Linked DNA regions of Homo sapiens. The protein of the gene in region 3 purifies or fractionates together with the protein of the main gene of each other region. This does not show direct contact. Each region holds a gene or a part of one and is shown on either strand. Other genes may lie near its edges.

Region 1 (6,031 bases), on a different chromosome or scaffold from region 3:
ATGGAAACATGTCTGAAATAAAATCAAGTGACGTGTTTTGTTATCCTTTTTGCGTTAAAGTATATGTTTACTTGTGTTCCTGTGCTGTATATTTTAAAAATTTCTGGAAGGCTGCATGAGAAACTGTTAGAATTGTTACTTCTGGATATTGGGATGAGTTGTGGGTGAGGTTAGGAGGTATGTGTGATTTTACTTTTTTTTTTTTTTTTTTAAATTTCCATAGGTTTTGGGGAACATGTGGTGTTTGGTTACATGAATAAGTTCTTTAGTGGTGATACCAAGATTTTGGTGCACCCATAACCCAAGCAGTGTACATTGTACCCAGTGTGTAGTCTATTGTACCCAGTGTGTAGTCTGTTGTCCCTTGCCTCCCTCCGCCAAGTCACCAAAGTTTATTGTATCATTCTTATGCCTTTGCGTCCTCACAGCTTAGCTCCTACTTATGAGTGAGGACATACAATGTTTGGTTTTCCATTCCTGAGTTACTTCACTTAGAATATTGGTCTCCAATTCCAATTCCATCCGGATTGCTGTGAATGCCATTATTTTGTTCCTTTTTATGGCTGAGTAGTATTCCATGGCGTGACTTTTCCTCTGGGTAGATACCCGGAAGTGGGATTGCGGAATCAAGTGGTAGGTCTACTTTTAGTTCATTAAGGACTCTCCATACTGTTTTCCATAGTGATTGTACTAGTTTACATTCCCACCAACAGTGTAAAAGTGTTCCCTTTTCATCACATCCATGCCAACACCTATTATTTTTTGATTTTTTGATTATGGCCATTCCTGCAAAGTGAGGTGGTGTTGCATTGAGGTTTTGATTTACATTTCCCTGATAATTAATGATGTTGAACATTTTTCTTATGTTCGTTGGCCATTTGTATATATTCTTTTGAGAATTGTATATTCATGTCCTTAGCCCACTTTTTGGTGGGATTGTTTGTTTTGTTCTTGCTGATTTGTTTGAGTTCCTTGTAGATTCTGGATATTAGTCCTTTGTTGGATGTATAGATTTTTTTCTCCCACTCTATGGGTTGTCTGTTTACCCTGATGATTATTTCTTTTGCTGTGCAGAAGCTTTTTCGTTTAATTAAGTTTCATCTATTTATCATTTCTTTTGTTGCATTTGCTTTTGGGTTCTTGGTCATGAAGTCTTTGCCTAAGCCATTGTCTAGAAGGATTTTTCCAATATTGCTTTCTAGAATTTTTATGGTTTCAGGTCTTAGATTTAAGTCTTTGATCCATCTTGAGTTGATTTTTGTATAGGGTGAGAGATGAGGATCTAGTTCCATTCTTCTACATGTGGCTTGCCAATTATCCTACCACCATTTGTTGAATAGGGTGTCCCTTCCCACTTTATGTTTTTGTTTGGTTTGTCAAAGATCAGTTGACTACGTATTTGGCTTTATTTCTGGGTTCTCTATTCTGTTACATTGGTTTACATGCCTATTTTTATACCAGTACCATGCTGTTTTTGTGACTATGGCTTTATAGTATAGGTTGAAGTCAGGTAATGTGATGCCTCCAGATTTGTTCATTTTGCTTAGTCTTGCTTTGGCTATGTATGCTCTTTTTTGGTTCCATATGCGTTTTAGGATTGTTTGTTCTAGTTCCGTGAAGAATGATGTTGGTATTTTGATGGGAATTGCATTTCATTTGTAGATTGCTTTTGGCAGTATGGTCATTTTCACAATATTGATTCTACCCATCCACGAGCATGGGATGTGTTTCCATTTGTTTGTGTCATCTGTGATTTCTTTCAGCAGTGTTTTGTAATTTTTCTTGTCGAGGTCTTTCACGTTCTTGGTTAAGTATATTCCTAAGTATTTTATTTTATTTTTTTTGCAGCTGTTGTCAAAGGGTTTGAGTTCTTGATATGATTCTCAGTTTGGTTGCTGTTGGTGTATAGCAGAGCTCTGATTTGTGTACATTAATTTTGTATAGTGAAGCTTTGCTGAATTCATTTACCAGTTCTAGCACCTTTCTGGATGAGTCTTTAGGGTTTTCTAGGTATATGATAATGTAATCAGCAAACAGTGACAGTTTGACTTCCTCATTACCAATTTGGATGCCTTTTATTTCTTTCTCTTGTCTGATTGCTCTGGCTAGGACTTCCAGTGCCATGTTGAATGGAAGTGGTGAGAGTGGCATCTGTGTCTTGTTCCAGTTCTCAGGGGGAATGCTTTCAACTTTTCCTTGTTCAGTATAATGTTGGCTGTGGGATTGTCATAGATGGCTTTTATTACCTTAAGGTATGTCCCTTCTATGCTGATTTTGCTAGAGTTTTAATCATAAAAGGATGCTGGATTTTGTCAAATGCTTTTTCTGCATCTATTGAGATGATCATGTGATTTTTTAAAAATTCTGTTTATATGGTGTATCAGATTTATTGACTTGTGGATGTCAAACCATCCCTGTATCCCTGGTGTGAGACCCACTTGATCATGGTGGACTATCTTTTTGATATGCTTTTTGAAGGCAGTGTGAGAAACTGTTAGAATGGTTACCTCTACATATTGGGATGAGTTGTGGGTGAGGTTAGGAGGTGGGTGTTTGTGATTTTACTTTTTACACTTTAATATTGTTTGATTCTACTTTGTGCATTAATTTCAAAAAAGACTCTTTTAGAATGTCTAGCCATTCTGAAGGAAATACTCTTGGACTTTTGTTTGAGTTCTAATTTATATGTTATAGTATGAATTGCCAGGTTTTAAGCATTAGCATGCATTCTCTATTTTTGGCAATTTGGAAAAGAATCTTTTCAGTCATTTTTCAGACTCTTACTGAATCTTCCACAATATTTTATATTAAAAGTAAAGCTTTCAGTTATCATAGTCTTGATGTATTTTGAAGGGTTCATGGGCAAAATCAGTAATAGTTTGAGATTTCTAACATACTGTATTTTGTGGGCTTATAGATTAACAGAATAGTTTTTTTTCTTTTTTTAATCTTTTCATTTGTGTTAAAATCTGATTTTCTGTTCAAAGGTTGATGCCCAGCTACAGGTAGTAAGGAAACTGGAAGAGAAGGAGCATCTGTTACAGAGCAACATTGGCACAGGGGAGAAAGAGCTGGGTCTTAGGACCCAAGCCTTAGAGATGAATAAACGCAAGGTATGATTGATTAATCTAATGATGGTTAGTCTCAGTGGAACAAATAAGTATAACACTGTTGAGATTGTAAGTTCGCTTTATTCCTTCAACTTGGGCTAACATTTTGCCTCACTGGCAATAATAGGTGATACAATGGTGTCACTTATTTGTACATCCTACATAGGCAATGGAGGCAGCCCAGCTTGCAGATGACCTCAAAGCACAACTGGAGTTGGCTCAGAAGAAGCTACATGATTTTCAGGATGAGATCGTGGAGAACAGTGTTACCAAAGAAAAGGACATGTTCAATTTCAAACGAGCCCAGGTAAAAGCAGTTGTCTTTTCTTGTCACCTTTTAGGTGTTTTCTGAGGTCGGAAGTGACCCATATCATGAAAGAATCATTAGTCCAATGTATGTCATTTCCTACTAGACTTGAGGAAGTTTGTTGAGGGAAGAGAGTAAGTCTGTTTTCTTCACTGCCATATCCTCAGACTCTTTTATGGTGCCTTGCACCTAGTAGGCACAAAATAAATATTTGTTAAATTAATGAATTAGTAAATTGTTAAAGAAGTAACAGCATAGCAGCAGTAGAGGATTTTCAAGTTCTTGTATAATGTCTCTATTTTTGTCATGCTAGCTGTTTCTCATGATGTCTTTCTGTCTTTATCCGTAAGTCTCTGAATTATTTTAAACCGTTCTACCTTCAGCTTAAAACTAATTACTATAAAACAAAATAGACTGTCCTCTAAACTCTTAGATGTGTTTTCACAGGACTGAATTGGTAATAGATGCAATTCTAATTTGGGGATATAATTATGGTTGCCTCTTCTGAAACAAAAGAAAATATCCTGCCATTTGCAGTTCTCTACATTTCTACAAGATAATTGACCATAAAAGGATAGAAAGTCCCCTCTTTTCACAACAGAAAACTCAAGTCTATTATTTTTCTCAAAAATGATAGATTTGGGTAAGTGTGTCTAATGGGTATGCTATCCTGCCACAGGAGGACATCTCTAGACTTCGCAGGAAGCTGGAGACCACAAAGAAACCAGACAATGTACCCAAGTGTGATGAGATTCTGATGGAAGAGATTAAGGATTACAAGGTTAGAAAAAATGCCTTAGTGATTAGTTTTTTGTCAAAGCTTTAAGTGGCCTAATAGACTGGGAGAATAATTTGCATGATAGTAACCAGAGAATGGTTTATTTTGGAGGTTGGGGGGAAATGATGCTCTTTTTTTAGTGCCTTGTGGGTTTTCTTCTTGGTTGTGTAGTATATGAGAGCCATTTGGATCATAAACTTTCATGGTTGTTCAAACTCTGACATCTTTTCTTTTTAGGCACGCTTGACCTGTCCGTGCTGTAACATGCGTAAAAAGGATGCTGTTCTTACTAAGTGTTTTCATGTCTTCTGCTTTGAGTGTGTGAAGACACGCTATGACACCCGCCAGCGCAAATGTCCCAAGTGTAATGCTGCTTTTGGTGCCAATGATTTTCATCGCATCTACATTGGTTGATCTAAGTCAAGAGAAGAAGAGGAGCTGGCTAGTCAGGAACTTATTCATTAACCACCAAACCTCTACCTCTTCTCTCCTTGACTGTCACCTGTAGGACAGTTTATCAGTCAACTACCTTTCCTCCAGACTTTACTTCCAGGCTCTCCTCTTCAGTAGCTGGATGACTTTAGCAGAAAGGACTGGTAAATACAAGCCTTGGGTTTCAGAATGAATTAGAAACAAATAACTCTTACTGTCTTCCCTCCCAGCTTTGTTTATTTTGTGCTTTTAGACTTTTCAGTGTTTTCTTTTTCCAGCCCACTGTATAAACTTGGATTGTCCATTCCTCCTGAAGAAATCAAGTTGGTATTTTTGATGTGGAAAAGGGAACAAAAGTGGAAACATGGCTACTTTTGGGGAGTGATATTTTAAAAAATAAGTTGTCTATGGGCACAAAGTTTTCTTCATTTGTGTAGCAAACTTCTTGTGAATGTGGATTACAAAATGGTATAATTGTGCTACTCTCCCCTGGGTGGTTTGCAGCCCTAATGAAATTATGTCTAGGATGATTCAGTCTATTTCCCATTTACTAGCAGAGTAACTTGTTAAGATCAGCTGGCTTTCTTGTTAAAGTTATTTAAGTTTTGAATGCTCTACTACTTCAAGTCTTTAAATTTCTTGAGACTAGAATAATTTTAAATAATATGACCCTTTGTCTTCTAATGAAATAAAGATTGAAGAGGTTGAGTCAGGACTGAGCTGGTGAAGAAATCTTGTGGGTATTCTGGAAATTTGATACGGAGAGAACTTGGTGAGCTATGAATTACTCTCAGTCTCCTTTTTACAGGGTTGTTGTGATCCCTCTTTTCCAGAAAATTCTGTGGAATGTTTCTGTAGGACTTTGTTCTCCACAAGCTTGAATTAAAGCAGGATTCAGTTTGCATTTGTGTTTATGGTTTTTCTTTGAAACTTTTGTCTTTATTATTACAAGTTGATTTTATATCTGCTGTTATAGAATTAAATTTTCTTGCATGGAAATAATCAGCTTAGGTTAAGAGGTTGGCCTTGTTTAGAGTATTTAGATCTTTGCTTAATTGAAGCACTTTTCTCCCAATTCTTTTATTGAGTCTATTCTATGGAGAAATTATACCTAAAAGATTAATTTATTTGACTACTCAGTTATCTTTCATAGTTCATTAGGTGGGGTAAGAGACTATAATTTGTTTTTTGGGGGAGCATATTGCTGCCTCTAGCTTTAGGGTGAGAGTTCTTGCATTATGTGGTGGGTTTTTTTTTTTTTTTTTTGAGATGGAGTTTTGCTCTTGTCGCCCAGGCTGGAGTGCAGTGGCACAATCTTGGCTTACTGCCACCTCCGCCTCCTGGGTCCAAGCAATTCTCCTGCCTCAGCCTCCCGAATAGCTGGGATTACAGGTGCTCACCACC
Region 2 (7,039 bases), on a different chromosome or scaffold from region 3:
CTTACAGTGAGCCGAGTTCACGCCACTGCACTCCAGCGTGGGTGAGAGACTGTCTCAAAAAAAACAAAAAACAAAAAAACAAACAAAAAAACGAGTCCATTTGGACTTTGATGTGTGTACCTGAGGCCAGGACCATGTAGCCAACCCGAGGTGGCCGGGGCAGACTGGGCAGGCCTGAGCCTCCTCTATCCACTGGCTGTCCCTGCCCCTCGGCAGGGTGGCCTGAGCCTGGGGTAGGCAGGGACCAAGTGGCCAGCTCTGAGGGGAAGGGAGGGCACCTGCGGGTCGGCTCAGCCTCAGGCTAGAGCTGGGAAACCTTTGCTTCATCAAGACCAGAGCGGCTTCAGTGTTTAAATTGAAAGGAAACTTTTATTGAGTCATGTTTTCAAAGCAATCTAGTTTTTAAAAAAGTTGAAGACAAGACAGAAAAAAGAACATGACACCTAAGAGAATCAGACAGGACAGACAGACGGGAGCAGGGGGGCGGGGACAGCGGCTCCGTGGAGGTCAGATCTTCTCCATCTTGGAGATGAGGTCGTCGCAGATCCTGGTCAGCTCCTCGTTCTCTTTAGTCTGGAGGAGGAAGATGAGTTGCGGGGCTTCTCCCTGCTTGGAGGGAGCAGCAGGCCCAAGGGCCTTCTAGAAGGTGCTGCCAGACGGCCCCTTGAGCTGGGCTTCCCGCACCCACCTTCTGCTCCACTGTCTTCTCCAGCGACTGGATGCGCATCTGCTCCTTCCTCAGGCTGGCCTGGAGGGCCAACGCTTCCGCCTGGGCCTTGCTCCGGACCTGGGCGATCTCCTCGTTTGCCCTGGAGGGGTAGGGGCGGGGCAGAGGCTGAGCTGGGGCCCAGGTGCTCAGATTCTCCCTCCAGGGTGGGGCCTCGCCCAGCACTCACAGCTGCAGCTTCTCCTCCGCGTGGGCCTTCAGGGCTTGGTACCTCTGGCCCTCCTGGGTGATCCTTGCCAGGTAATCCTCCACGCACTTCTTCAGTGACTCTTCGTTCTAGGAAGGGGCAGGCATTAGCTGTGGGTACCACGCCGTCTGCTGGAGAGCACCCAGGCTTGGTGTCTGGGGACCTGCAGATCCTCGAGGCTGTCTGGGGCATCAGCCGTGAGCCAGTAGCTCCCGTTTTCCTTTTGGAAAAAGCCCCTTCACACAAGTTCCCAGCTCACCCCCTCTGGAGGTTCAGGACAGCCCTGGCTCTCCACCCTGAGATGCCGGGCCTGAACCTGGTGCCCTCACGGCTGGGCCCCCTCCTGCCACACCTGCAGCCTCTGCTGGCACCAAGTGCTGCTGGAAAGTGGGATGCACCTGGGACCACTGACAGCCCAGCCCGTCTCCCTCTGGAGCTGAGCCCTGTGCTTTGGGGACAGGCAGGGGAGGCCAGCAGGAGCCACATGGTTACCCAGACACGCCTGCTCCTCACAGGCTGCTGCCCCCTCTGGGGGCACCTTCCGCTCAGTGACTGAGAAGCCCTAACTGAGGGGTTCCTGGGTCCCCGAGTGGCCTCTGCTTGGGAAGGCTCAGCCTACCTGCCTTCTTCCTGCAGTGCCCCCAGCGGCCTCACAGCCCAGCCATCCTCACTCCTCTGTCGCAGCCCTGTATCCCAGAAGCACCCTCAGCACTGCAGCCTCTCCCTGAGCCCCTACCCAGCATGCAGCCCCTGATGTCCTGCGGAGGTCACGCCTCCCTTAAACCCACAGCACTGTGTTTCTCTGCTGTGGAAAATTCCCAACAGCGTCTGTCCGGGAGGCGGCATCCGGAAGCTCTCACGTGTGCACAGGTCAAGCCTCCCGCCACAGCGGCGTCTCTCCCTCTGGCTCTGGGGGCTGCCGTCCACACACTGGTTCCCAACTCAGCCTCTGCTTCCCTCATCTGACCTGTACCCTTTGAATTGTTAATGTTGTTAACTGTGTACCTGTTAGAAATTTCCATTTGGTTCTTTTCTAGTTTCTGTTTTTTTTTTTTAGACGGAGACTCACTCTGTCACTCAGGCTGGAGTGAAGTGGCATGATCTCGGCTCACTGCAACCTCCGCCTCCCGGATTCAAGCGATTCTCCTGCCTCAGCCTCACAAGTAGCTGGGACTACAGGTGCGTGCCACCATGCCCGGCTAATTTTTGTATCTTTAGAAGAGACAGGGTTTCACCATGTTGGTCAGGCTGGTCTCAAACTCCTGATCTCGTGATCCACCCGCCTCGGCCTCCCAAAGTGCTGGGATTACAGGCGTGAGCCACTGTGCCCAGGCTTTTTTTTTTTTTTTTTTGAGACGGAGTCTCGCTCTATCGCCAGGCCATAGTGTGATGGCGCGATCTTGGCTCATTGCAACCTCCACCTCCTGATTGATTCTCCTGCCTCAGCCTCCCAAGTAGCTGGGACTACAGGTGCCTGCCACCATGCCCAGCTAATTTTTGTATTTTTAGTACAGAAAGGGTTTCACCATGTTGGCCAGAATGGTCTTGAACTCCTGACCTCATGATCCTCCCGCCTTGGCCTCCCAAAGTGCTGGGATTACAGGCATAAGCCGGCCTAGTTTTTCTGTATTTTTTGTTTTCTGAGAGAGTCTCGCTCTGTCGCCCAGGCTGGAGTGCAATGGTGCCATATCGGCTCACTGCAACCTCTGTCTCCCAGGTTCAAATGATTTTCTGTCTCAGTTTCCTGAGTAGCTGGGACTATAGGTGCACACCACCATGCCTAACTAATTTTTGTATTTTTTTTTTTTGAGATGGAGTCTCACTCTGTCGCCCAGGCTGGAGTGCAGTGGCACGATCTTGGCTCACTGCAACCTCTACTTCCTGGGTTCAAGTGATTCTCCTACCTCAGCCTCCTGAGTAGCTGGGACTACAGGCAAATGCCACCCTGCCCAGCTAATTTTTGTATTTTTAGGAGACGGAGTTTCATCATGTAACCCAGGCTGGTCTCGAACTCCTGACCTCAAGTGATCCACCCGTCTCGGTCTCCCGAAGGGGATTCTTTTCTAGTTTCAAGGTCTCTATTGAAGCAATACTCTTCTGAATACAGAAGACAATTACTTTAAAGTCTGCACTGGGTCGTCCAAGATGGGATTAGATGTGCAAAGGAGCCTCCATGAGGAAGTAGGGAGGTGGCCAGTGGGAGCTGAGGCACAGGCCTGCCCCGGGGAGAGGCGAGGCCAAGGCAGCTGCTCACACCACAGCCCAACCTGAGGGAAGGTCAGCAAAGCCGCTGTGTCCTCAAGCCAGCAGCACCGTGTGAAGAGTCCTGCCTCTCCAAGCGTCTGTGCTGGGCCAGACTGCTGTACTCTGCTGCCGGTGGGCACTCTGCTGCCACAGGGCCCTTCCCATCTGCTCCCTGCAGACCTGAGGCACCACCTGCCGGTGCCAACTCCAGCGTCTGGGGCTCCTGTGGGTCTATCAACAGTTTTTGTTTTTGTTTTTTAATTTTAGAGATGGGGGTCTTGGTCTATTGCCCAGGCTGGGGGTGCAGTGATACAATCATGGCTCACTGCAGCTTCGACCTCCCGGGCTCAAATGATCCTCCCACCTCAGCCTCCCTAGTAGCTGGGACCACAGGTGTACATCACCATGCCTCACTCTAATAACGGGTCTGATTTTCACTCATGTTTCCTGTTCCTTTCACACTTGGTTATTCTGTGCCAGACACTAATTTAAAACTGCAGCAGCAATTTAAAGCATAAGATACCTTCTTCCCTAGAGTATTCAGGCTTGCTTCTGTTAGGCAGCTGGGCCCCAGCCACTGACACCCACCTGACTTCAGGACTCAGATGAGGTGTGGCTCAGCAGGCCCTGCAAGGGCCGCTTTTCCAGTTTAGTCTGACTCCCAGGGGACCCATCTGGTGTCCCCAACCCCCTTGCACCAACAGTGACAGCCCCTCTTCCAGCTGCACCTGCAGGTCCAGCTCCTCCACAGGAGGCGTTGAGCACCTCCGCTCCAACATTGCTGCTGTGGGCAGAACCCTCTGGCGGCCTCGCAGGCACCTTCCAGGCCTGCTCTGGGCAGATGGATGGCCCAGACATCCCTCCTTCCAGCAAGCATGTGGGCCTTGCCCAGCACAGAAGGTGGGGGGCGCTCAGAGTCCCGTGGCCAGGAGGACACCAGGGTGGCCTTGCACAGCCGTGACCACCTTTCAGTGGGCCTCCCGCCTTGGATACTGCATGCCCTGGGTCCCCAACCCTTGGGACCCAAGCGCTCGGACAGCCCAGACACCTTTCCGAGGTGCCCCAGGCCCCGGTGCACCAGCGCTGTCTCAAATCTCACAGATGCCTGATCATAGCCGAGTCGTCTGTCACACAACAGCGGACGGCTCAGATGGCCTCCCTGCTCACTCTGCCTCCTGCCGCCCTCAGCTGCCTCGCAAACCAGCTATGCTGTGACTCCTGCACCCTGTCTCGTTCACAGGTCATCCCATGCCCCCGTGGCAAGGGGAGGCTTGGCCAAGGACCAAGGTGCAAAGACAGCAGCTTGTAGCCCCGCTGGCTTGGACCATGAGTCCATCAGCCTCCGAGGTGAGGACACCAGGGTGGCGGAGACATACCTTGCGGTAGCCCTCGATCACCTCTTTCTGTTTCTCAAAACGCTTGAAGAGGTCGGAGAAGGACTTCTCCATGGAGTTCAGATCTGTGGTAAGTTGGTCTTTTTCTTTTAGAACTTTCTGGATTTCAGCTTTGGAAAGTTCCTTCTGCTTCTGAACTTCCTCTTGAGAAAAGAAAAGCAAACGTTCAGGATGAGGAGGCAACCGAAACGATGGGTGCCAGAGACAGCCCAAGGAATGAGGCAAGGGACTCGAGCGCCAGGAGGAGAGGTGGGCAGTGGGTGTGAGCCTCGGAGGGTGATGGGTCCCTCCACCCAGGATCTTCTAGGCCGGATGCAAAGCCCAGGAAACAGCTGTTTCCTCCACATCAGATCCGCAGGGAACTGGAGCCTGGGCCAGAGGTCCCTGAAGAGGCGGCGCCCAACACCCTAGAGCCTAGGGTGAGGCCTGGGAGCCGGTATGGCGAGCTCCAGGATGTGCGTCGTGCTTCGTGGTGGTCCTGGAGGGACTGCAAGGGCCAGGCGGTCACCTGCCGCCGGCTGACACTCAGCCTAAGACAGATCCCCACAGTAGCACCTCCAGGAGCCCAAGCTTTTGGGAGGCCAGATGAGGCCTGGTGTTCCCGTCCTGCCAGACACCTACAGAGGCTGCTGCTAGACATAGCCGCACGGCGAGGGCAGGGTGGAGTGGGGTAGGCCACGGCGGGACAGACTCTGCTCCCACCACAGCCCCACTGCTAGCTCAGCATCTGCACAACTGTGGGGCCTGCCAAGCCCTGGCTCCGTGGGAGCCACCAGCCTCACTACCACCAGCTTCCCCGCAACTCGCCTCAGTGCTTCCACGGCCGGGCCCATGTTGAAGGGACTCGTGTGTTAGGAAAAGGGGCCTCAGGAGGGTGGGGTCCTAGGCAGGGTGCAGGGCAGGGCCAGGGTGGGGCATAGGCAGCCCCTCGTGGAGGCACGTGGCCTCGGTGGCCCGGGCACTCACCCATGGCCTGGTACACAACCTCTTCGAACCTGTCCATGATCTTCCTGTGGGAGGAGAACAGACACACAGCCATTGCCTCGGGTGCCCAGCGGTCCCAGGCCAGGTGGGGATGGGGACGGGGACAGGGATGGCGAGGGGGATGGGGACAAGGATGGCGAGGGGGATGGGGACAAGGATGGCGAGGGGGATGGGGACGGGGAGGACAGGAGACGGGGCCTCCTTACCCCAGTTCCAGGTTCTTCCCGTGGAGCTCCTCACACCTGCTCCTCAGCTCCCGGTTCTCCTCCTGTGTCGCCTTTACCTGCTCAGGCCACACCCAAGTCAGCAGGCAGGCGGGCCAGACTGACCCTCCCAGGACCTCCCCACAGGATGGGGCCAGCCCGCACCCGAGGTCCCTGGAGCAATGTCCCAGAGGCACAGTTCCATGTGGGGCTTCCAGTGGGACCCTGGGAACCCTGTCGAGGCCAAGGCCACCTGCTCCACGTGCACCCGACTGCCAGGGGGCAGGAGGCATGAGGCTGCTGGCTGTGCTCCTGGGTGGAACCAGCAGGCACCCAACAGGTGTGTGTCCCTGCAGCTGCCCCCGCAGCCCAGTGGCAGATACTAGGGGTCCTAAGTGTTAAATATAGTGAACTCCAAGTTTGTCTTCAAAGAATCAGTAAGTCAGTATGTTCAGATCTCTTTTTTTTTTTTTGAGACAAGAGTCTCACTCTGTCGCCCAGGCTGGAGTGCAGTCACGTGATCTCTGCTTGCTGCAAGCTCCGCCTCCCGGGTTCAAGCCATTGTCTTGCTTCGGCCTCCCGAGTAGGTGGGACTACAGGTGCCCACCACCACGCCCGGCTAATTTTTGTATTTTTTAGTAGAGACAGGGTTTCACCGTGTTAGCCAGGATGGTCTCCATCTCTTGACCTCGTGATCCGCCCACCTCGGCCTCCCAAAGTACTGGGATTACAGGCGTGACCCACTGCACCCGGCCAGATCTCTTCTTTGATTCTCCATTTAAAATTCCTGGTTCTCTTCGCCCCTTGCTTCTAGTTTCAGTAAACAATTTTCCCGCCAGTCCTAATCAGTAGTTCACATCTGTTCCCTGGTCACCTGCTCCATCCTGACTCATCCCGGTCACCTGCTCTGACCTAAGTCACCTTGAGTTACCTGTTCCTAACCGTCCTTCCCGTCAAACTACTCACCCCACCACTCTGACTCTTACCCTGCCCTCTTTAAAATAGCCAATTGGAATTGGCTTAGACTGTGTGGTCCAACCTTAGCCAACAGGGGAACAACACAGCAGTAGGGCTACCTGTGTCAGGAATAAGAACCCCTTCCCCTCCCTTGTTCAGGTGTGCTCTTGCCATTGCTCCATCTGCGAGGGGCACCCTTTCTGCAGAAAGTAAAAACTGCCTTGCTGAGAAAATTAATGTTCGAGCACTATTTCTTTGTGGCACCAGAGAACAAGCATTGTGCATTTCTAACATAAGTTACATGCAGGGGCCACCTGCCCCCGGAGCCCAGGCCTGCAGAGGA
Region 3 (7,039 bases):
GGAGCAGGGAAACTGCCCGGGGAAGAATCCTTGCTTGAGAGAGAGCAGCTTACTTGCCCCGTGTCCACAGGCCTCCACTAACTGGACCGCCACTGGCCCGAATACACCCTCCTCTGCCTGGGAACAAAAAGTCCATCCACCTCTACCATTAAGCTCCCAATAGCTGCCTGTCCTGGGTCTCCTCTCCACCCCACCCCAAGACGCTGAATCATCCCAGCTCTTCTGCAGCTCAGAAAAACGGATAAACCAGTAGGCAATGGGTGAGGGAAGCATCTTTGGAATGTCAGCCTCTCTGACAGCAAAGAAACAGCCAAGAGCCATTCGCATTCGCCTAGTTCCTTACATCAGAAAGAGGAATTGAGCTAATAAGCATTTCTCAATTCCTACTCCAGGGCCAAGCTCCCCCACCCCTAAGTGTTAAGTTCCTGAAATTGCATTTACATTTTTAATAGCAATCTTTTTCAAACAAGGGGAAAAAAGCATGATTTAGATTTTTCATGTTTGGGAGATGTGAAATCCTTCCTGCTTCCCAGCTGTGGCCAGATGCAGAGAGGCAGTTTAGGACAAGTCTGACAGTACCTGACAGGCTGACAGCTGAAGCCTGTTACTTAAATCTCATGGCAGCTGGCACTGGAAGAAGCTGTGACAACCCCCTTTATTGGAAAAAAGGTCCCCCTGCTGCCTCATTCTCAACTGTGGCACATCCTATTTTGGTGGGAGCAGCAGTAGAGAACATCTGGGGGTGCTGTCTACGCACCCTCATTCCCTTGCCCTCTTCCCACTGCTTCTCTGACACCCAAACAAACTCCACGAGCCAGCAACTCAGGTAGGTCAGACAAGGTGTTTCTCCGAGGCAGCTCCTTTAAACACTTTGGATCCAGGTTGCCTAATCTTTCTTGTCCTGGGACAACTGTGAATTTGCCAAGATAGCCTGAGGCAGGCTGGGAGAGGTGGATGAGGAAGAGGCAGGCTCCCCCTTCTGCCCCCAGGCCAATTCTTCCCCAGGTATTTCATTTGTCAAAGGCATATATTGCTACCCTGTTTTCAGTGGATGGGCCCTCCGATAGCCTCAACCACAGCACACAAATAGCATCTACAAGTAAAAACCACTTTTCTTCCTCAAGTCTTCACCTACATCTTAATTGACTCTTAGTTAACACGCAAGCTTAGCATCCTTGGTTGTCCAAATCCCAAGCCTGCTGAAATCAGAAGGGGAACAAGCATCTGAAGTGGGAAGAAGTGAGGGCTATTCGAGGCACAAGGACAGCAGAAGTTGCAACCAGCAGCTTGATGTTAAAGGAGAAAGAAAAGATGAGAAGTACAGCCTCCTGCCAGTTCAAAACAGAGAGGCAATCTGCCTCTTTACCCCTGTGCATCTAGAGAACCCACTCTGCAGGTGGGTCTGACAGGTGATGACACTGAGCCACCAGGGAAAGATTTTATTTAGGCCAGAATCTTCTGTTGAAGAAAGCGGAGAATATTTAACATATTTTAGAGATTTTCTAACAAAAATAAGTTTTGGAGTTTACTTGCTGGCGTCTCTTGGTAGAAAGCACGCTGGACTTGCTTCTAGACCTAACTCCTCCATTCACTGGGAGATGCTGAACAGTCATCTTGTCACCCTGAGCCTCAGTATCCTCTTCTGTAAAAATCTAACATGAAGACCACTCTCATGGGACTATTGCAATTTGTCATAGGGAGATATGTAAGAGCATATCTCCAAACAAGTACGAGTGCTACTTATTATTTTTTTGTTTTTTTGAGATGGAGTTTCACTCTTGTTGTCCAGGCTGGAGTGCAATGGCATGATCTCGGCTCACTGCAACCTCCACCTCCCAGGTTCAAGTGATTCTCCTGCCTCAGCCTCCTGAGTAGCTGGCATTACGGACATGCACCACTACACCCGGCTAATTTTGTATTTTTAGTAGAGATGGGGTTTCTCCACGTTGGTCAGGCTGGTCTAGAACTCCTGACCTCAGGTGATCCGCCTGCCTCGGCCTCCCAAAGTGCTGAGATTATAGGTGTAAGCCACTACAACCCGGCCTGCTAATTATTATTTCTACTACCACTGCTGAATGGAGCAGGCTTCAGTTTTCCATAACATTCACTCATATGGAACCTTGCCCAGGGACAGGAAAAGACTTGCACACTAGATGCACATACAGTTCAAAGAACTCTCCGCTGGGCACGCAGGCTCACGCCTGTAATCCCAGCACTTTGGGAGGCGGAGGTGGGTGGATCACCTGAGGTCAGGAGTTCGAGACCAGCCTGGCCAACAGGGTGAAACCCTGTCTCTACTAAAAATACAAAATTAGCCGGGTGTGGTAGCTGACGCATGTGATCCCAGCTACTTGGGAGGCTGAGGCAGGAGAATTGTTTGAACCTGGGAGGCGGCAGTTGCAGTGAGCTGAGATCGTGCCATTGCACTCCAGCCTGGGCAACAAGAGCGAAACTCCATCTCAAAAAAAAAAAAGAGGGCCAGGCGTGGTGGCTCACACCTATAATCCCAGCACTTTGGGAGGCCAAGGTGGGTGGATCACGAGGTCAAGAGATTGAGACTCTCCTGGCCAACTTGGTGAAACCCTGTCTCTACTAAAATACAAAAAATTAGTTGGGCATGGTGGTGCATGCCTGTAATCCCAGCTACTCCAGAGGCTGAGGCAGGAGAATTGCTTGAACCAGGACCCAGGAGATGGAGGTTGCAGTAAGCTGAGATCGCACCACTGCACTCCAGCCTGGGCTACAGAGCGAGACTCTTTCTCAAAAACAAAAAATAGCTGGGCATGGTGGCATGCATGCCTATAGTCCCAGCTACTCAGGAGGCTAAGACAGAGGAATTGCTTTGCTTGAACCAGGCGGCGGAGGTTGCAGTGATCCGAGATCTCGCCACTGCACTCCAGCCTGGTGACAGAGCAAGACTCCATCACCAAAAAAAAAAGAATTAAGTTTAAAAAAATAAGAAAAGAACTCTCATCTAGAAACCCTAGATTTGTCCTCGGAGGTATTATCCCCATATACAGAGACCCAAGAGAGGATTAGGTACTCGCTCAAGGTTGCACAGCATGGCAAAAGTAGAGCAGGTCTTCTGGCCCCAGACCCAGGGTCCTCCTACTAACTTGAATGCCCTCACTTTGCCCCTGTCCCAGAACCCCCAATCTCAGGGCCAAGCAGGTCCTCACCTCATTCTCATAGACCAGCAGCTGGGCCTGGCAGAGGAGCAGATATCGGTCTTTCCAGAAACCCAGGAGGCCCCCACTGCTCTTCTTGATCCAGCCAGCCTTGTCCACCATCTGTGCTCCCCGAGGCTTCTCACCGGCTTCCTTCACACCCTGTAACACAGCACCAGTTCATACCATGAGGGTTGCTACCATGGGGTCACAGGTCACAGGTTCATAGGTCACACAAGGGATGTGTCCCTAGGCTAAGTACCTAATGACATCATAATATGTGAGCTTCCCCACAACCCCCAAGGCAGATATTCCTAACCCAGGATCAGAGCTAATAACAACAATAATAGCAGCAGCCACTTTACTCTGAGCCACTGTATAACATTTGATACACATAGTGTCATTTCACTCTTACAACTCCCCTCCAAGATGGTAGCCTCATTATCCACATGTCATAGCAAACTAAAGCTCAGAATGGAGGATGACTCGACAGAGTGGCAAACCACTGCTAGAGGACAGAGCCAGAATTCAAAGCAGGTCTCTCTGACCCCACGTTTTTCCCACTCCACCATTCTGCTTCCATGTGTTCATTCAATCAGTCAACAAATGTACTGAGTGCTTACAACATCACAGGAGAATAAAAGTAAGGCAGTCTCTGTCCTCAGAGCTCACAGTGCGGGAAAATAGGAGCTGAACAAATAAATACCCAGGCATACCCATCAACCTGTGTGAAATGCTATACAGGAAACACACAAAGGGCAGCGAGAGGACAGTGGGGGACCCAGTTCAGGTTGGGGTGGCCCAGGAAGGCCACCCAGAACAAAGACTGGAAGGACAGGCAGGCTGAGTGGCAATCTGCCTCTCTACCGCTATGCTTCTAGAGAACCCACTCTGCAGCCCCTTCCGCTTCCCACCCAAAGCAGGAGGCTCCTCTCCCCTCCTCCCCACTCCAGGCAAGGACCTTAGGGTGGCCACCACATCTGGTGAGGGTTCCAAGGACTCTGTCTTTGACCACAGGCTGGCACAGGAGTTAAATTCAAGCCCTTCTCTTGGACTTGGGTAGACACCCTGGAGCCTTGGGGCCAGCTACTGACATCTTGTGCCTCATTGATTGCCTGCTTGGGTGGCTGGGTGCCAGATACATGCCTACCAAATAAGGTTGGGGTCAGATCCACTTCTGGGTCCCCAGCACCCAGCCCTGTTCTTTTACACATAATGGGTGCTCAAGAGGTACGCGTGAAATGAAAATAAAAATACACACCCTTTGCTAACCACTTTGCTTCACTGATAGGTACCCAGAGTCGTGAGTGTGAAGTGGGGGGTGAAGGAGAGGGGATCAAGAATGTGTCAGAATCTAGAGGCTGCTAGAAGGAAATTAGCATGGACTAATTTTGACTACGTTATAATTTACATAAAATTCAAAAAAGGGGCCCCAGTTAAAAGAGGTGTGCCTCTCCCCAGGGATATCCTGTGGCCACAGCTGCCTTTGGAAGAACAAGCCCAGACAGATGTAAGCGTGGTGCACTGTCAGGAGCTGGGAAGACCTGGCTTCCCTGGTCTCTGTCATGGCAGGGGAACCCCAGCCTGGTTCTCACTGTGGGCCCCCACCCCCTTTTGAACTGCGCATTCTAGTGGTGGGGAATCTGGGCTTAGAAGCTGCAGTCATGCAGACTGAAGCAAACCACTTAACCTCTCTGAGCCTCAGTTTCTTCATCTGTGAAATGCAGCTACTAACAGCAGAAGTTGTAAGGAATCCAACTCCACGAGGGCAGGATTTTTGTTTTGTTCACTCCTGTACCCTCAGTTCCTAGACAGTGACTGGCACATAGTAAGTGTTCAATAAACATTTGTTGCTGAGTAAAGACAAAGCATATAGAGCAGTTCCCAGGATGCCCTAAACCTAGTAAACGGCAGCTGTCATTATTGTTACTATTGTCACTGCCATCCTCTCTGGCTCTCAGGGACCCTCTCCCTGGGCCCAGTTCCCAAGTCAGGACAAGCCCTTTCTGGTCTATAGCTGCTGGCCTCAGATCTCCAGGAGCTCCAGGAATGTGGGGTCCCACCTTGGGGTCTCTCCCTAACTTGTAGATGGCAAGAGAAATGGGGAAGTGGGGTGGTCCAAATGATCTTCCCAGGGTCTTCTTCTACAGGCATGGTGGGTCATGCCTGTAATCCCAGCACTTTGGGCCGAGATGGGCAGATCATTTGAGGTCAGGAGTTTGAGATCGGCCTGGCCAACATGGGGAAACCCCAACTCTACTAAAAATACAAAAAATAGCCGGGCGGTGGTGGCGCACGCCTGTAATCCCAGCTACTCAGGAGGCTGAGGCAGGAGAATCCCTTGAGCCAGGAAGGCGGAGGTTGTGGTGAGCCGAGATTGCACCACTGGACTCTTGTATGGTTAACAGGATGAGGCCCTGTCTCCGAAAAAAAAAAAAGGTCTTCCCAGATATAGGAACAAGGAAGTAGAAGGCTGGCCGATTATGAGCCACCCTGTCCAGGAGAAGAGGGATTTCAGCACCCTTTGACAAGAAGGGAAAGGCTCTCCCATTCCATCATGCACTCAACTCCCATTCCCCACATCACCACTGACACCCCCAGGGCCCTAACACTACTTCAGCGAGCCCTGCAGGCTGTCATAGGCCCAGGGCTAGAAGGGAAGAACAGGGAAATGGGAAACCCCACCCCCACATTTCACACTGACAACCCTCCTACTGCAACGGCAACAGCAAGGACAGCACCACCAGCCCCTGCCAGGCCTTCCACCTGATGGGCAGACTCTTGGTTTCTCTTAAACAAGGCAGTGAGGTCTGTGGAGTGTGAAGCTGTTGCCCAGCCACCCACCTCTGAGCTCCAAGCTCGCCTCTTGCTTTCAGGGGACCCACCCACCACCCCAAGGGATCTCACACCCCTTTCTAAACTCTCTCCACTCATGACCTCTCCTGAAAACTTTCTACCCTCTGGAAGCTCCCTAGGGCCACAGCTGGAACTTGTGCCTAGATCACTGTCACTTCTGGGCTGATGTAGCCTAGAGAATACTGTGACTGGATTACCTACAGAAACAAGTCCAGGTCCTTGAAGAATGAATGGGACCAGGGCAGGACTAGGCGAAACAGCACTTTGGTATGGAGAAGGGGACAACTGAAGGGCTACAGATGGTGTGAACCACAGCCCAGCCACAGAAACAGCCACCCAGGGGAGGACTGGCTGGAGGCCAGAGTCCTAGTTGCCTCCACCCAGCCCCCTTCCCTGCCCCTCAGACCCCCTCCCTCCAGGGGGGCCTGGCTATGCCCCAGTAAGTTTTAATAAGGGGCCCCTCCCCTTGGCAGGGTTCACAGGGGAGGTTTTGTCCTGCTCAGCCCAGTTTCTCGGCCTCCTCTCCTCACTGAGCAGCTGACCGCTGTTCTTCCTGTTTTGCCCTCTCCCCTCCCATCCCTCCTCACCCAGGCCCTTTCCTGCCCACTGTGAGCAGCTCCTGAGGCACCCCTAGGCACCAGCCTGCCTCCCTTGGATCACTCATTAAAAAAAAAAAAAAAAAAAGAAGCCAGGTCACCTCAACTCTGTACACAGAAGGGGACAGATGGAACCACAACACAGGTTACGAGAGACAGAGACTAGAAGAAACTTGGTTGGCACCTCACATCCCAGGAAGCTTATGACAACCTTTGCTCTTTGACAAAACCCAGTGATGTTCTGACCCAACTCTACTAAGAATCCACCGTGTCAGAGTCCTGTGCCGGGGCATTGAGAGAGAGGAAGCACAGGCTCTGCCCCAGGGCAACCTTCAGTCTGAGGTGGGTAACAGAGACGCTGTATAAGATAAGTCCCCTGTCTGGTGGGGAGCGGGTAATCTCCTGCTTGAGAGGCTCCAG

What was found. Proteins that work in one complex are often made in the same cells at the same time.
Region 1: the proteins of PLEKHO2 (region 3) and RNF20 purify together in Homo sapiens (affinity purification with mass spectrometry; 3 studies listed by BioGRID and IntAct, with this or other methods). This does not show direct contact.
Region 2: the proteins of PLEKHO2 (region 3) and TACC3 purify together in Homo sapiens (affinity purification with mass spectrometry; 4 studies listed by BioGRID and IntAct, with this or other methods). This does not show direct contact.

The regions. Positions count from the first base shown.
Region 1 is NC_000009.12:101,557,814-101,563,844, forward strand, and holds the end of RNF20 (E3 ubiquitin-protein ligase BRE1A), read left to right. Parts: intron 1-2,987; coding exon 2,988-3,113; intron 3,114-3,276; coding exon 3,277-3,417; intron 3,418-4,096; coding exon 4,097-4,198; intron 4,199-4,432; coding exon 4,433-4,609; 3' UTR 4,610-5,531; downstream 5,532-6,031. UniProt on the Homo sapiens protein: Component of the RNF20/40 E3 ubiquitin-protein ligase complex that mediates monoubiquitination of 'Lys-120' of histone H2B (H2BK120ub1).
Region 2 is NC_000004.12:1,738,482-1,745,520, reverse strand, and holds the end of TACC3 (transforming acidic coiled-coil-containing protein 3), read right to left. Parts: exon of another isoform or gene 5,823-7,039; coding exon of another isoform or gene 5,820-5,822; coding exon 5,743-5,819; exon of another isoform or gene 5,563-5,742; coding exon 5,519-5,562; exon of another isoform or gene 5,040-5,518; coding exon of another isoform or gene 4,960-5,039; exon of another isoform or gene 4,696-4,959; coding exon 4,535-4,695; intron 2,127-4,534; exon of another isoform or gene 1,984-2,126; intron 1,004-1,983; coding exon 897-1,003; intron 810-896; coding exon 689-809; intron 607-688; coding exon of another isoform or gene 574-606; coding exon 508-573; 3' UTR 350-507; downstream 1-349. UniProt on the Homo sapiens protein: Plays a role in the microtubule-dependent coupling of the nucleus and the centrosome. Involved in the processes that regulate centrosome-mediated interkinetic nuclear migration (INM) of neural progenitors.
Region 3 is NC_000015.10:64,844,883-64,851,921, reverse strand, and holds part of PLEKHO2 (pleckstrin homology domain-containing family O member 2), read right to left. Parts: intron 3,330-7,039; coding exon 3,180-3,329; intron 1-3,179.